Homo sapiens: one gene and its partner. The protein of the gene in region 2 purifies or fractionates together with the protein of the main gene of each other region. This does not show direct contact. Each region holds a gene or a part of one and is shown on either strand. Other genes may lie near its edges.

Region 1 (7,440 bases), on a different chromosome or scaffold from region 2:
CTCTAATTTTGTTCTTTTATAAATGGGTTTTTGCCATCACAGTTTATATAGTTTTTAAAAATGTTTTTTGCTCAATTTCCCAACACTTCAAAATACACAGCACTACCATATTAACAATACATTATCCAAGGTTAATAAATAGTCAAATTTTATTTTTATTATTTTTTTAGTGAGATGGGGTTTCACTCTGTTGCCCAGGTTGGTCTTGAACTCCTGGGCTTGAGCAATCCTCCCACCTCAGCCTCCTGAGTAACTGGGATTATAAACATGTACCACTGCACGTGGCTCATGGTTAAATTTTAAGAGAAAAAGTCTACTCACTGGTCACCGGGTGAAAAATTTAAAAAAAAAAAAATTTCTTAATTCAATGTTAAAAAGGGCTGATAATTTTTTAGAAAAGTAATTTCTTTGTACATGTTTACTAAGTATTTCTGAGCCTCATCTCTACTAAAAATTTAAAAAATTTGCCAGGCATGGTGGTGTATGCCTGTAGTCCCAGCTACTTGGGAGGCTGAGGTAGGAAGTTAGCTTGAGCTGGGAGATGACGTTGCAGTGAGCCATGATTGTCCCACTGCACTCCAGCCTGGGCAACAGAGCAAGATACTGTCTTGAAAAGAAAAAAAAAAGCAAGCAAGCAAGTTGGACTAATTGTATTACTAATCCAAAAGAAAACAAGCATACACAGAGTACAAAAACAACTTAGTTGTCAAATTAGTTTACAACTGACAACTTACCTTTATTTTACAAGCATGTGTGGAGGACTCCAATTTTAGATTTTTTTTATACAAAATGATCTTTTCATGTTCACTAAAAATAAAAAAGAATTAATTTTTTTTACTTACATATATTGTCACTTTTAATAGTTACACTTAAAAATAAATGTTTCCAGAACAATATTGAAATCCTAAGATTCAGTTTTCCTGGTGAGGCATGAAGAGTTGGGCTCCATAACTGAAGCACACTGCCTATGATTACATCTACCACTTACTAGGCTCAATGAGAAAATTACATTATATAACATATGTACAACCATGTAGCCAGACTGTATTTTAAAGCTCAATAAACACAGCAATTGTTTCCAACATGCAGGATATAAAACAGTTCATATTTTGTGTTAAAGACAGATTGGAGAAAAATCTTCGTAAGAAAAAAAATCACAAGTTGCGTTACAGGTTAATAAATAGGTTTATGTAGCACAGTCTTAGATCCCTCCACCATTTCTAATAGGCTTCCAAGAAGAAAATGTATTCAAAGTTCCAGACTGACTACCAAATTAACTTTCGGAAGACAGACTGCTGTGAGTTTAAGGAAAGAGACACACTTCTCAAAATTTCATTCTAATAAAACTCTTCCACTAACTAGCTATGACCTCCTACCAATTCACCTTGATTGTTAGTTCTAAATTTCAACATTTATAAAAATAACTAGGCTGATCTACACTGTCTTTTAAGATCTCTAAAGTTGTAAACTTCTATGCCTACTGGCACATTTTTATCTTCTCTCCCATAACATATGGTATCAATATCAGAGAATCAATAATTATTGCAAAAAGTGAGAAAAATCAAAACACTACTTCAGAAGAACACTTTCCCGTGTACAAGTCACACACCTGTCATCCAGGACAGTACAAACATTCTTGCCCCTACTGGTTCCACAGTACTCCTCTCCTAAGTACACTTCCATATTTCTTGCTGAACTTAAAATGCCAATAGAAGCGATTTCTTCACCTCCATCAGGGCCACACCTCAGGTAAAGGAAGCAGGGGTTTTCATCTTTGTTGTTGTGGTTTCTCTTCAAAATCACCAGATCCTGACTGAGAAGAAAATTGGTGAAAACATCACACAGTATAGTTCTCTGAACATGACTCTTCTTTTTTGAGACGGAGTCTGGCTCTGTCGCCCAGGCTGGAATGCAGTGGCTCCATCTCGGCTCACTGCACGCTCCGCCTTCCGGGTTCACGCCATTCTCCTGCCTCAGCCTCCCAAGCAGCTGGGACTACAGGCACCCGCCACCGCGCCCGGCTAATTTTTTGTATTTTTCGTAGAGACGGGGTTTCGCCGTGTTAGCCAGGATGGTCTTGATCTCCTGACGTCGTGATCCGCCCGCCTCGGCCTCCCAAAGTGCTGGGATTACAGGTGTGAGCCACCGTGCCCGGCCGGGGCTTCTTTCTTCTAACTCACTTCCACTTGCCCTTGAGGTCCAAGCACCTTCCCAAGCATCCAAGAAGCGCTCAACACAGAATTCATACGGAAATGAAGGTGTCACACATCAGGGCTTTCCCAAACTCTATTTTTTCCTCAATCAACATTCTACTCAATCCCCTGCAATTGACTCTCGGATAATTACATAAATCACTGGGCACCTACTGGGTGCAGGGCACAATGAAAGACAAAAGTGTATCTTTTTCGAAATTAAGTCGACAGCGATCATCTATAGCTGGACTTTTTACACAGCCTGTTTTGGTGGACAGGAGGTGTCTTGTTTGAGGGTAGAGGGGCGGACTGACTTTGACAGCAGCCCTGAGGGGCTATCACGCCTGATGGGGACGTTATATGAAATTCCGAGTCCGGGTCACCTTCCCCCTCTCACGCCCAGGAGCCTCGGCCCCTTCCCGGCCGGACCCACCCCCCTCCGCCCACCCCGGACGACCTCGCAGCTCCCCTCCCCAACTAGAGACCTGGTACCAACTGCTCTCCCGGATCCCGGGCTCAGACCCTCTCGCCTCCCCTCACAGCTCCCCTAGAAGCGCGGCAGTTGCCGAGCATAGCGACCCCGTCCCCGTCGGCCCGGCGCACCCTGGAGCAGGCGGTGCCAGCAGCTCCTCCCAGTCGAAGTCACCGGGGCCGAGACCGGCCCGGGTGAGGAGGAGGCTGTGGGTCAGGGCCCCGCCTGCAACATCCCAAGAAGAGGCCAGCGTGGGGCGGCGGGTGAGGCCCCCGTCCTCGGTCCGCGTCTCCATTCCGCCGCCTTCAGTCAGGCCAGCCCAGCCCCGGAACCTCTCTTCCAGTGCTTGAATTTCCGCCGGTACAGCGTGGAAATGGGCAGGCAAAGCGACTTCCGGCTCACTCCGCTTCAAGTACCCGCCGCTTCTTGCTTTGGTGGGGAGAGCAGGCACCAGAGACACGCATGCGCATGTGCCAGCTGGCCTCAGGCGCGGCGTTCAAAGTGTGCGGGGAGGAGGTCGAGAGCGGAGCATGCGCACTGGCAGACCCTTGCTCTTTCGCTGGAGACTATGCGCAGGCGCGGTGCACTGCGCGCCGGCACGAGGGTGTTTTCGACGTTGGCTGTGGGGAAACAGCAAGCGGCGTGGACGACCGTTGCTGAGCTGGTGTGGAACGTCTGTGATCAGGTAGGTGTAGTCTCGTCGCTCTACGCTGCGTGCAAGACCGACTCCTGACCTCGTTCTTTCCCAAGGGGACGCCAGGGCCTTTTCTGCTTCCATTCCGTCGGATCTGCAGCATTTGTGGCAGCTAGCGCGGCGGACGCGCTGCCGATTCGGGTTATTTTTACTTCGAATTCTCCTAGCCTCCCTCACACATATTCTCGCTTTAGAGGGGGGCTGAAGCGGATGATGGGGTTTTGGGGTTGAAGGGCATCTGTGATGGGCATTGAGCCACGCTGGCCTTCGCCGGGTGCTGTCTCAGCTGACGCCCCCTGACCCCATGTGCAACCCTCAGGCCGCAGGAACCCGGGCATCCAGGGCTGGACGCTCTAGGTGACAGAAATTTGAAATGCAAGAAAGACCCAGACACCGAAGGCAGGGGCTGCCCCATGAGATCGCTCCTCATGGCACTGGAAACAGCGAGTGGAAAGGGGGGGTCTCAGAACTCTGTTGAAGTAGAATATGAACTCAGTCTTGAAGGAACTTAAGGCTACGGATGCAGAACAGTGGGAGCAGATGGAACTTTCTAGATGCCCCACGGGATGGGACTGTATATAGTGTGCCCCCTCATCCTCCTCCTGTAGAGGCTTGTGCAGATTATTTTTCTGTCTTTTGAAAAAAGCAAACTCTGAAATTCCACTTGTCTATAATCTAGAGTTCCAAAGTTGTGTTTAAGGTGGTATCCTCTCTAGGAAATAACGTTTTTGCTCACCCATACTCTAATTTTCTTTCAGAGCTGTCTATTCTGGGTTCATGACTCAGTGCGCATTACTTTAATCTTTTTGCTTATGTTTTCGTTTGAGTTTATGTACTAGGACTTGTGCCCTCTAGCTAAAAATGAGAATAAACTTTGCATTCTGTTTACCTGTGTCAAAGCAAGAAAAATGATGACCAAATGTATTTTTCTATAAGTAATCACCAGAATGTACGTATGGTAGGTGAATTCACCAAGATTGAAAGAGAGAAATGTCACCAAAGGTCTATCATAGCAGAATTGTAAAGTCCTCGTTTGCAAAGATTTTTTTAATATTTCAGACTCATTCTAAGTTGTCCTTGTCATTATTTTTGTCCTGTATGTCCTGCTTCCTGTGGTTGTAAGTTAACTTTGATCCACATTAATACATGTGGACAATCCGAAGGAAAATAGGCTCTTCAGAAACTAATCTGCAATTTCATGAGCAATAGCAATATTATAAACTGGATTTTGACTTCCTTAAATAAAGCTGAATGTCCAGGAATCAGAAAACAAAAGATTCCTATGGTCTATCCTTTCCTTTATTTCCATACAGCCAATAAACCACCAAGTCTTCATTTTCTTAAAGAAAAATTTTCCTATCTCTGCTTCTTCTGTTTCCAAGCACTAGCTTTATCTGAACAATTCCAGGAGTTTGTCAGTAGCTTTCATTTTGATTCCTTCCATTTCAGTCTTTGCACTGCCCTCTTCTCCTTCTGGTGATCAATGTTCCTGACTGAATCAACACCTTCACTCCTTAGCATAGCATGCAGAGTCCTTTGTACTTTGAACCCTGCCTACCTTCCAGTTTCCTCTACCTAGAATGCCATTTTTTTCAATAGTAGGAAAAATCCTATTTATCATGCGAAACCAAGCTTACTTCATCCTGCTACAGAATTAAACAAATTCCTCTGTGCTACAATTACCACTTTTTTAGGTAGTATAATTCTCCTTTGATGTCAGACTTTGCCTGTTTATATATCTGTGTTCCCTACTATCTGCATGCTTGCTGAGATAGACATTATGTTGAGTACAGGTTTGTTGTATGGAATTGATAGGTTGGTGACAGCTTTTATCACATAAACTAAGAGCAGCAGAAAAAGGAAAATTAGTACATTCAATCTTAAGCTTTTTTCCAAAGCCAGGATGGTTATGGTTCAAAGCTGACTTCAATCTTAATATGATACATTATTCTTGTCATGAATTACAAGTGAGTTTTTTGCTTTACTTTTCTCTTTGAAGTAAATCAGAAAATATAGTTGGTGATATGGTTGGCTGTGTCCCCACCCAAATGTCATCTTGAATTGTGGCTCCCATAATTCCCACTTGTTGTGGGAGGGACCCCGTGGGAGATAACTGAATGGTGGGGGCAGTTTCCCCCATACTGTTCTCGTGGTAGTGAATAAGTCTTGGGAGATCTGATGGTTTTATAAGGGGAAGCGCCTTTCGCTTCGCTCTCATTCTCTCTTTCCTCTGCCTTGCTCTTCTGCCATGATTGTGAGGCCTCCCCAACCAACCACATGGAACTGTGAGTCCATTAAACCTTGTCTTTATAAATTACCCAGTATCAGGTATGTCTTTATCAGCAGCGTGAAGATGGCTAATACAGTTGGAAATTTCCCACCAGTAATGATATGCAAGAACTCAATATTTAGGAGCATATTTCAAATCTGTTTTCAGAATATGAGCCAACGCACATTTGAAAGGTACATTTTAGAAAAAAGTAACTTAGGATACTAATTTTCTTGAGCACATTCATTTAGTAATGCCACAGTTTAGATGTTTTGACTATCTTAAGTAGATTGAGTTCTTACTATATATGCCCTGCCTTTTACACAGGAGTATACTTCCCAGCAAGGTGGTTATAGGAACTTAACTTCCTTCTCAGGACCACTTGAGTTGTACCTTCTCTCCTCCTTTCCCTCTCTTCTGGTCCTTGCAGGTCCCACAGTTGCCAGGAATTCCTTCTCACCCTGCCTCAATACAGGGCCTGCAATTTTAACAGAGTGGAAAAGAACAACCTTCCTATCTTTTTCTCCCAACTTCATTTATAGCTGCTTTCTACCTCATTTTAACTAGAACCTCTGTTCTAGTTAGAAACATTGTTAGACTGTATATCATTTTCAATACAACCTTTCTGAGGAAATGTAGAAATGCTGCAGAAGCTCTCGAACTAGAGCTGAATCTGTGCCCGCATCCATGATTATCACCTGTATGACGCTTTCTTATCCTAAAACTCTTATGCAATAGTCGATGGCCATACCACCCTGAACATGCCCAATCTTGTCTAAAACTGTTATGCAATAAAGGGTTAACTCAGGAAGTCTGGGAGGTTCAAACCCTGCAGCTTCCAAAGAAGTTGGCTCTTGACCAGCTCTGGGAAGATGACCGCTAACCTATTGGAATGTCCTGCCTGATAAGAGTGTCTTTGTATACCTAGCTAGCTTATATCAACAGTGTGATTTATATAGTAAGGCCACACTTGAGACACACTCTGTCAGTTTGATCTCTGGAGCTCAATTTTAAATAATTATTTAAAATTAAATAAATAATACTCTATACCTATCTAGATACAAAGAAAGGTTTTTCAGGGTGAGGTAGGTGGGAATCACATAACCATATCTTGCTGCTAACTGTGGGCTTTATAACAGAGTTCCTTAACACTTCGGTTTCAGAACCCTTTTACACCTTTATAGCTTTCTAATTAAAAAATCAACAACATTGTTCTTGAGTCTGTAGTAACGTACACTAATAGGAATGAGTACTTAAAGAATGGATTGAAAAGATAACCACTGGGTCCCTCCCACAACAAGTGGGAATTATGGGAGCTACAATTCAAGATGACATTTGGGTGGGGACATAGCCAAACCATATCACCAACTATATTTTATGGTTTATTTAAAAGGGAAAAAGGAAAAATCCACTCCAGCTTCAGGACACCTGGCTTAAAATAAACTTTCTTAATGGACCCATTTCGTAAAAATGGTTTTATCCTGTTTCCTTGGGAACTTGGCAATAACTTAGAGGGTTTTAGAGTCTTAAAGGAAGGTCTGGGTGAATAAACTCTTTTTTTATGTTAACAAAGGAAAATAGCATCCAAGCTAAATCAGCTGTAGGATTTGTTATGTTTCGTTATGCATTCATGGCACTTGCACCTTCAGAAGAAGTAACTCATCAAAAATTCTGCATAATATGCTGTCAACTCATTTGTAATATTGCACGTTTCCTACAGAAATAATCCATCTTTGTGCAGAATGATAGAATTTTGAGGTAAGTTTATTAACATCCCTTCAGGAATATGTTGTACTGTTGGGTTGCAGGTTAA
Region 2 (7,021 bases):
AATTACACATCATGACTAAGTGGAATAATTCCAACACTGCAAGACTGGTTCATTTTGCAAAAATCAATTAATATAGTATACCATATATTAATAGAATAAAGGACCAAATATGCACGATTATTTCAATAGATATAAAACAGGCATTTGACAAAATTTAATACCCTTTCATAATTAAAAAAAAAAAAAACTCAACAAACTAGAAATAGAAAGGAATTTCCTCAACCTGACAAAGGACAACTATTCCAAACCCATGGCTAACATCATATTTAATGGTGAAAGACTGAAAGCTCTCCCTCTAAGGTCAGGAACAAGAGAAGGATGTCTGCTCTCATCAGTCTATTCAACATTGTACTGAAGGTTCTAGCCAGGGTAATTAAGCAAGAAAAGGAAATAAAAGACATTCAGAATTGAAAAGAAAGCACTAAAACTACCTCTATTTGCAGATGGCATTATCTTGTATATAGAGAACCCTAAGGAATCCACAAAAAGCTATTAACATTAGTAAACAAGTTCAGCAAGGTTGCAGAATACAAGATCAATATACAAAAATCAATTACAGTTCTATACACTGGCAATGAACAATCCAAAAATGAAATTAAGAAAAACAGCATTAAAAAAACTTAGAAGCAAATTTAACAAATAGTTACCACTTATACCCTAAAAATTATTTTTAAATCATTGAAAAACAATTAAAGAAGACCTAAGTAAGTTGAAAGACATCTGTGTTCACGGAGTGGAAGATTAAATAATGTTAAGACAGCAATATTCCCCAAGTTGATCTAAAAATTCAATTCAATTCTTATCAAAATCCCAGCTGGATTTTTTTGGAGAAATTGCCAAGCTGATTCTAAAATTCAAATGAAAATGCTAGGTATTCAAAATGGCCAAAACAATCTTGAAAAGAACAAAGTTGGAGCACTTACACTTCTCGATTTGAAACTTAAAAACTATAATAATCCAGAGTTTTCAAGTACAAGTAATCAAATATGGTGTGGTACTGGTACAAAGATAGACAACTAGATCAATGCGAGATGTATACGCATTGATCTGAAAGTACAGAAATATATGTTATGGTCAATTTTCAACAAGTATAACAAGAAAATTCAATGGGAAAAACAGTCTTTAACAAACGGTACTGGAACAAATGTATATCTACATGCAAACGAATAAATTTGGACCCCTATCTCATACCATATATAAAAATTAACTCAAAAATAAATCAAAGGCTTAAATATAAAAGCTAAAACAATAAAACTTGAGGCTGAGGTGGGAGGATCACTTGAGCCCAGGAGTTCAAAACTAGCCTGGGCAACATAATGAGACCGCAGCTCAAAAAAAGGAAAAGAAAAGAAAAAAGAAAGTGAAAAGATAAACAATAAGTGAAAATATTTGGAAATCCCATATCTGATAAGAGCCAAGTATTAGAATACATAAAGAATTCTCACAACTCAACAATAAAAGCCCAATAACTCATTTAAAAAATAGACAAAGGATTTGAAAACATATTTCTCAAAAGAAGGTATACAAATGGCCAATAAGCACATGAAAAGATGCTCAACATCATTAGTCATTAGAGAAACCTAAATCAAAACCAAAATGGGATACCATGTCACACTACAAGCCCACAATTTTAAAAAGACACAAAATGACAAGTATTGGCAAAAATATGAAGAAAATGGAACCTTATACAGTGCTGGTATGAATGCAAAGTGGTGTAAAACAGATTGGAAAAGTTTGGTAGTTTATTAAAAAGTTAAACATAAAGCTACCATATGACCTAGCAACTTTACTCCTAGGTATATACCCAAAAGAACTGAAAACACTGACCGGGTGCAGTGGCTCACACCTGTAATCCCAGCACCTCGGGAGGCCAAGGCGGGGAGATCACGAGGTCAGGAGATCGAGACCATCCTAACACAGTGAAACTCTGTCTCTACTGAAAATACAAAACTTAGCTGGGCATGGTGGCACGCGCCTGTAGTCCCAGCTACTCGGGAGGCTGAGGCAGGAGAATCGCTTGAACCCAGGAGGTGGAGGTTGCAGTGGAGGTTGCAGTGAGCCGAGATCACCCCACTGCACTCCAGCCTAGGCGACAGAGCGAGACTCTGTTTCAAAAAAAAAAAAAGAACTGAAAACGTATGTCCACACAAAAACTTGTACACAAATATATAGAGTAGCATTATTCATAATTATGCATAAAGTAGAACTATCCCAAATGTCCATCAACTAATGAAAGAATAAACAAAATGTAGTATAGCCATACAACGAAATGTTATTCAGCAATAAAAAGGAATGAAGTTCTCATATATGCAATAGTATGGATGAACACTGAAAACATTATACTAAGTAAAGGAAGCCAGACACAAAGGCCATATATTATCAGATTCCATTTATATGGAATGTCCAGAATAGGTAAATCCATAGAGACAGAAGATAAATCAGTGGTTGCCAAGGACTTGAGGAAAGAGAAAGTAGAGAGTGAGTACTAATAGGTAGGAAGTCTCTTTCTGGGGGTGGTAAAAAGTGTTTTGGAATTATACAGTGGTGATGACTACACAACCTTGTGAGTATATCAAAAACCATGGAATTGTACACTTTTAAAGGGTGAATTTTATGGTATCTGAGTTATATTTCAATAAAAAATTTTAATTTATTTGTTTTTTGATACAGGGTCTCACTCTGTTGCCTAGACTGGAGTGCAGTGGCACGATCACAGCTCACTACAGGCTTAATCTCCTGGGCTCAAGCAATCCTCCCACCTCAGCCCCCAGAGTAACTGAGACTACAGGCCCGTACCACCATGCTTAGCTAATTTTCCTTTTTTTATTTTTTTTAAGACAGAGTCTCACTTTGTCACCCAGGGTGGAGTGCAGTGGCGCGATCTTGGTTCACTGCAACCTCCACCTCCCAGGTTCAAGCAATTCTCAGTCTCAGCCTCCCAAGTAGCTGAGACTACAGGTATGCGCTACCACACCTGGCTAATTTTTGTATTTTCTATAGAGACGGGTTTTCGCCATGTTGGTTAGGCTGGTCTCAAACTCCGCTTGCCTCGGCCTCCCAAAGTGCTAGGATTACAGGAGTAAGCCACCGTGCCCGGCCATATTTTTAAAAATTTTTTTGTAAAGATGAGATCTCACTATATTGCTTATGCTGGTCTCAAACTCCTGGGCTCAAGCAATCTTCCCACCTTAGTCTCCCAAAGTGCTGGGATTACATGCGTGAACCACCGTGCCCTGTTTCAACAAAAATGTTTGAGTAGAACTGAAAAATTGAAGACTTCAAAGAAAGAATGATAAAAGTTACAACACAGTAACATGTACTGGCTCAATGAATCCACTTTTTCTGGTCAGTCTCCACAGTTACCATACTTACCTATATGGCTGTAAGATTTTTAATTTTTGACATTCTACTATAACTAATTTAGAGCATGTTGTACACCTTATGACAGTATCAAGGTACCAATGTTGGCTCATTAAAGTTTTGCAGGGCACAAACTAATTGCTTTAGTAATGTACTGAGAATCTCCACAAGGAACTAACAATATTTTCTTAAGTTGTGTTTTAATGGACTAGACTATGGAAAACTGAATATGTAAAATTTAAAGACTGCTTAGATTTAAAATTGGTAAATAATAATAATGATGACATCATTTCACTGATATGTCCCTAGAAATCTGTATTTTGCCGTAATATTCAGGTCAAGAAAGAACTACCAAAATAGAAATGAATAAAAAAATAGAGAGGGAAGGAAAGGGCTAAAGTCCAAAGAAAATTAAACACATCTTGGCTAAACAGCTGTGTTGAAAAACAATTTCTTATCTTGCAATTAAGAACCGATTTCTTTCTGAAAGACACAGGACATTGGGTTAATAGATTTCTTTAAAAGAAAATCTGTTTTGGCTATTGAAACATTAAAAGAACAGAACATCTGTTTTGCAAGTAAAGACAGATTGTGCAAAAGAATCAAATATCAAACCACCAATTAGACTAGCATTTAATCTGTTCTATTTAAATTTTCAATAAAAGTGAAGTTCAATTCTTAAAATTACAGTTCGGCTATAAATATTTAACCCCAGGAACCCCTAACACTGAAATAATCTTAGAGTATAAATGAGGTAATTATTAGCATATTTTATTATCTTTAATTCTATTTGATATCTATATCAAAACCAGGTTTTAAAGCACTATATACTCTAAAAATCATTTTAAAAGTATTATAAAAGGGAAAACTCACCATCCATGAATTCTGTACATATTGAAATCCTGTTTTCTACAAAAAATGCTCCATAAAATCCAATGATATATGATGAATCGCACTGTAACAAAAATAAGACAAAAGTAGTTATAAACCTGCAAGTCAATACCATAGGCATGCTTTACAAATAAAAATTATGAAAAAATTACCTTATAAAGAATTTCCAATTCAGACATAATTTGCTTCTGAAGTTCCAGTGTAATATCTAGTAGTATGACCTAAATATAGAAAGGTATTAATATTTTTTAATCTTCTAATTATATTAGTTATAATCACTATGAAATATAAGAACTAAAAACATGGTAGTTCCTTTATTCTTCCCCACCTCCTTCTTCTTACCACTATAATTCCCAGTAATACAAGCTGTATCTGCATCTGTCTAACCTTTTGTCCTTCTATACTGGGGGAGGTGGTACAGAAGTGATTGATGGGACCAAAGAAAAAAGCCAGGTCTCAAAGGTCAATAGTAATGGCTTTAAAAGTCAGTTAAGTTATAACACTCTTAATTTATGCACTCTATTTTAGCCACATTGGCTATTTTCAAAAGAGGAGCATAGGAATGACCCTCAAACCAATATAAAAGAATTATGTTGGCTACGTGCAGTGGCACACACCTGTAATCCCAGCACTCTGGAAGGGAGGCTGAGGTGGAAGGGTACCTGAAGGCCAGGGGTATATGGCCAGTCTAAGCACCATAGCGAGAACCCATCTCTACAAAAAAAAAAAAAAATTACCTGTGTGTAGTATGATCGGGTGGTCCCAATCTACTTGGGAGGCTGAGGTGGGAGGATCACTTGAGCTCAGGAATTTGAGGCTGAAGTGAGCCATGACTGCACCTCTGCACTCCCACCTGGGTGAAAGAGAGAAATCCTGTCTCTTAAAAAAAAGAACTATCTTGTGGTTTGTGATCAGACACTAGGCAATAAGCAGAGAGGATGATGAATAAAAATGACATTTTATTTATTTATTTAGAGACACAGTCTCATGCTGTCACCCAGGCTGGAGTGCAGTGGGGCGATCTTGGTTCACTGCAATCTCTGCCTCCCAGACTTAAACAAACCTCCCACCTCAGCCACCCAAGTAGCTGGGACCACAGGTGTGCCACCATACCCAGCTAATTTTTTGCATTTTTGGTAGAGATGGGGGTTTCACTATGTTGCTCAGGCTGGTCTCGAACTCCTGAGCTCAAGCAATCTGCCCACCTCAGCCTCCCAAAGCACTGGGATTACAGGCATGAGCCATCACAACTGGCCAAAAAATAACTTTTTTCTTTTCTTGAGACAGAGTCTTGCTCTGTTACCCAGGCTGGAGTGCAGTGGCATGATCTCGGCTTACTGCAACCTCTGTCTCCTGGGTTCAAGCAACCTCTGTCTCATGGGCTCAAGCGATTCTCGTGTCTCAGCCTCCTGAGTAGCTGGGATTACAGGTGTCTGCCACCACACCTGGCTAATTTTTGTATTTTTAGTAGAGATGGGGTTTCACCATGTTGGCCAGGCTGGTCTTGAACTCCTGACCTCAATGATCCGCTCACCTCAGCCTCCCAAAGTTCTGGGATTACAAGCGTAAGCCACCATGCCCAGCCAAAAATAACATTTTAAGTGGGGTTTTTAGTTATGAGAGAAATAAGGAATTTTAAAAATATATCATCTTTTTTTTTTCCAGTCAGGTAATGTTCTTTGCTAATCCTGTTACAGAAAGTTAAAGCTTGAAGAAATCTTATTTCATTAACTCCCTTCTTTTGAGTGAGGAGGAAACCACGTTTCCCTCCTGGGAGCCACAGAGCCTGGGAATGGTAGGACCCCCTCCTCTGGACTCAGTCTCATGGGCTTTTCAGTACTTTATGGTTTATTTAAAATATCAATCACTGAGTGATATTACCCACAGTGATTTATAACCCATAAATATAAAATATTTATAAACTTATCTAGAATAAATTCTAGTTTATTTCAAACACATATTTTTTTAAGAAAGAAGACCATACTGTTCAAATTCTACTAAGCATGTCAGTGAAACTAATTCAAGAGTAATTGTTTTATTTATTTATTTATTTATTTAGAGATGGAGTCCTGCCCTGTCACCCAGGCTGGAGTGTAGTGGCGCGATCTTGGCTCACTGCAACCTCCGCCTCCCGGGTTCAAGCCATTCTCCTGCCTCAGCCTCCCAAGTAGCTGGGATTACAGGCACCTGCCACCACACCCGGTTGATTTTTCTATTTTTAGCGCAGACAGGGTTTCACCATGTTGGCCAGGCTGGTCTCGAATTCCTGACCTCAGGTGATCCACCTGCCTCAGCCTCCCAAAGTGCTGGGATTACAGGCGTGAGCCACCGTGCCCAGCTTGTTTTTTACTTTTAAAAGGCAGTGATGAGAATAGAATAGGTGGAAAACAATTTTTATGATTTGTGGCAGAGTTTCTGGCTCTAGACATTTCTAGATAAAAACTTAACATTCAGAATTACTATGATAGTGTAGTTATGTAGCATTCAACTTTGAATTACATTTTGTATTACAACTGAAGAATATATATACAATCATACTGAAGAAAAAAGCATAAGTTATGCATTATAAACTGCTAATAGAGCAAGGAAAGAAAAGGACAATTCTAAAGTACATTTTATAGTCCTGACATTGGCCAGGCGTTGATTTGGGGAAGCGGAAGGTGGGGAAAAAAAAGGCATAGGTGGTTTCTATCAAGAGTTTGCAGCTGGGCGCGGTGGCTCACGCCTGTAATCCCAGCACTTTGGGAGGAGGCTGAGGCGGGCAGATCAC

What was found.
Region 1: the proteins of MAP2K5 (region 2) and C10orf88 purify together in Homo sapiens (affinity purification with mass spectrometry; 2 studies listed by BioGRID and IntAct, with this or other methods). This does not show direct contact.

The regions. Positions count from the first base shown.
Region 1 is NC_000010.11:122,951,220-122,958,659, forward strand, and holds the start of C10orf88 (ATPase PAAT), read right to left. Parts: upstream 3,009-7,440; 5' UTR 2,960-3,008; coding exon 2,796-2,959; intron 1,814-2,795; coding exon 1,610-1,813; intron 808-1,609; coding exon 735-807; intron 1-734. UniProt on the Homo sapiens protein: ATPase that regulates mitochondrial ABC transporters ABCB7, ABCB8/MITOSUR and ABCB10. Regulates mitochondrial ferric concentration and heme biosynthesis and plays a role in the maintenance of mitochondrial homeostasis and cell survival.
Region 2 is NC_000015.10:67,643,682-67,650,702, reverse strand, and holds part of MAP2K5 (dual specificity mitogen-activated protein kinase kinase 5), read right to left. Parts: intron 4,473-7,021; coding exon 4,404-4,472; intron 4,316-4,403; coding exon 4,234-4,315; intron 1-4,233. UniProt on the Homo sapiens protein: Acts as a scaffold for the formation of a ternary MAP3K2/MAP3K3-MAP3K5-MAPK7 signaling complex.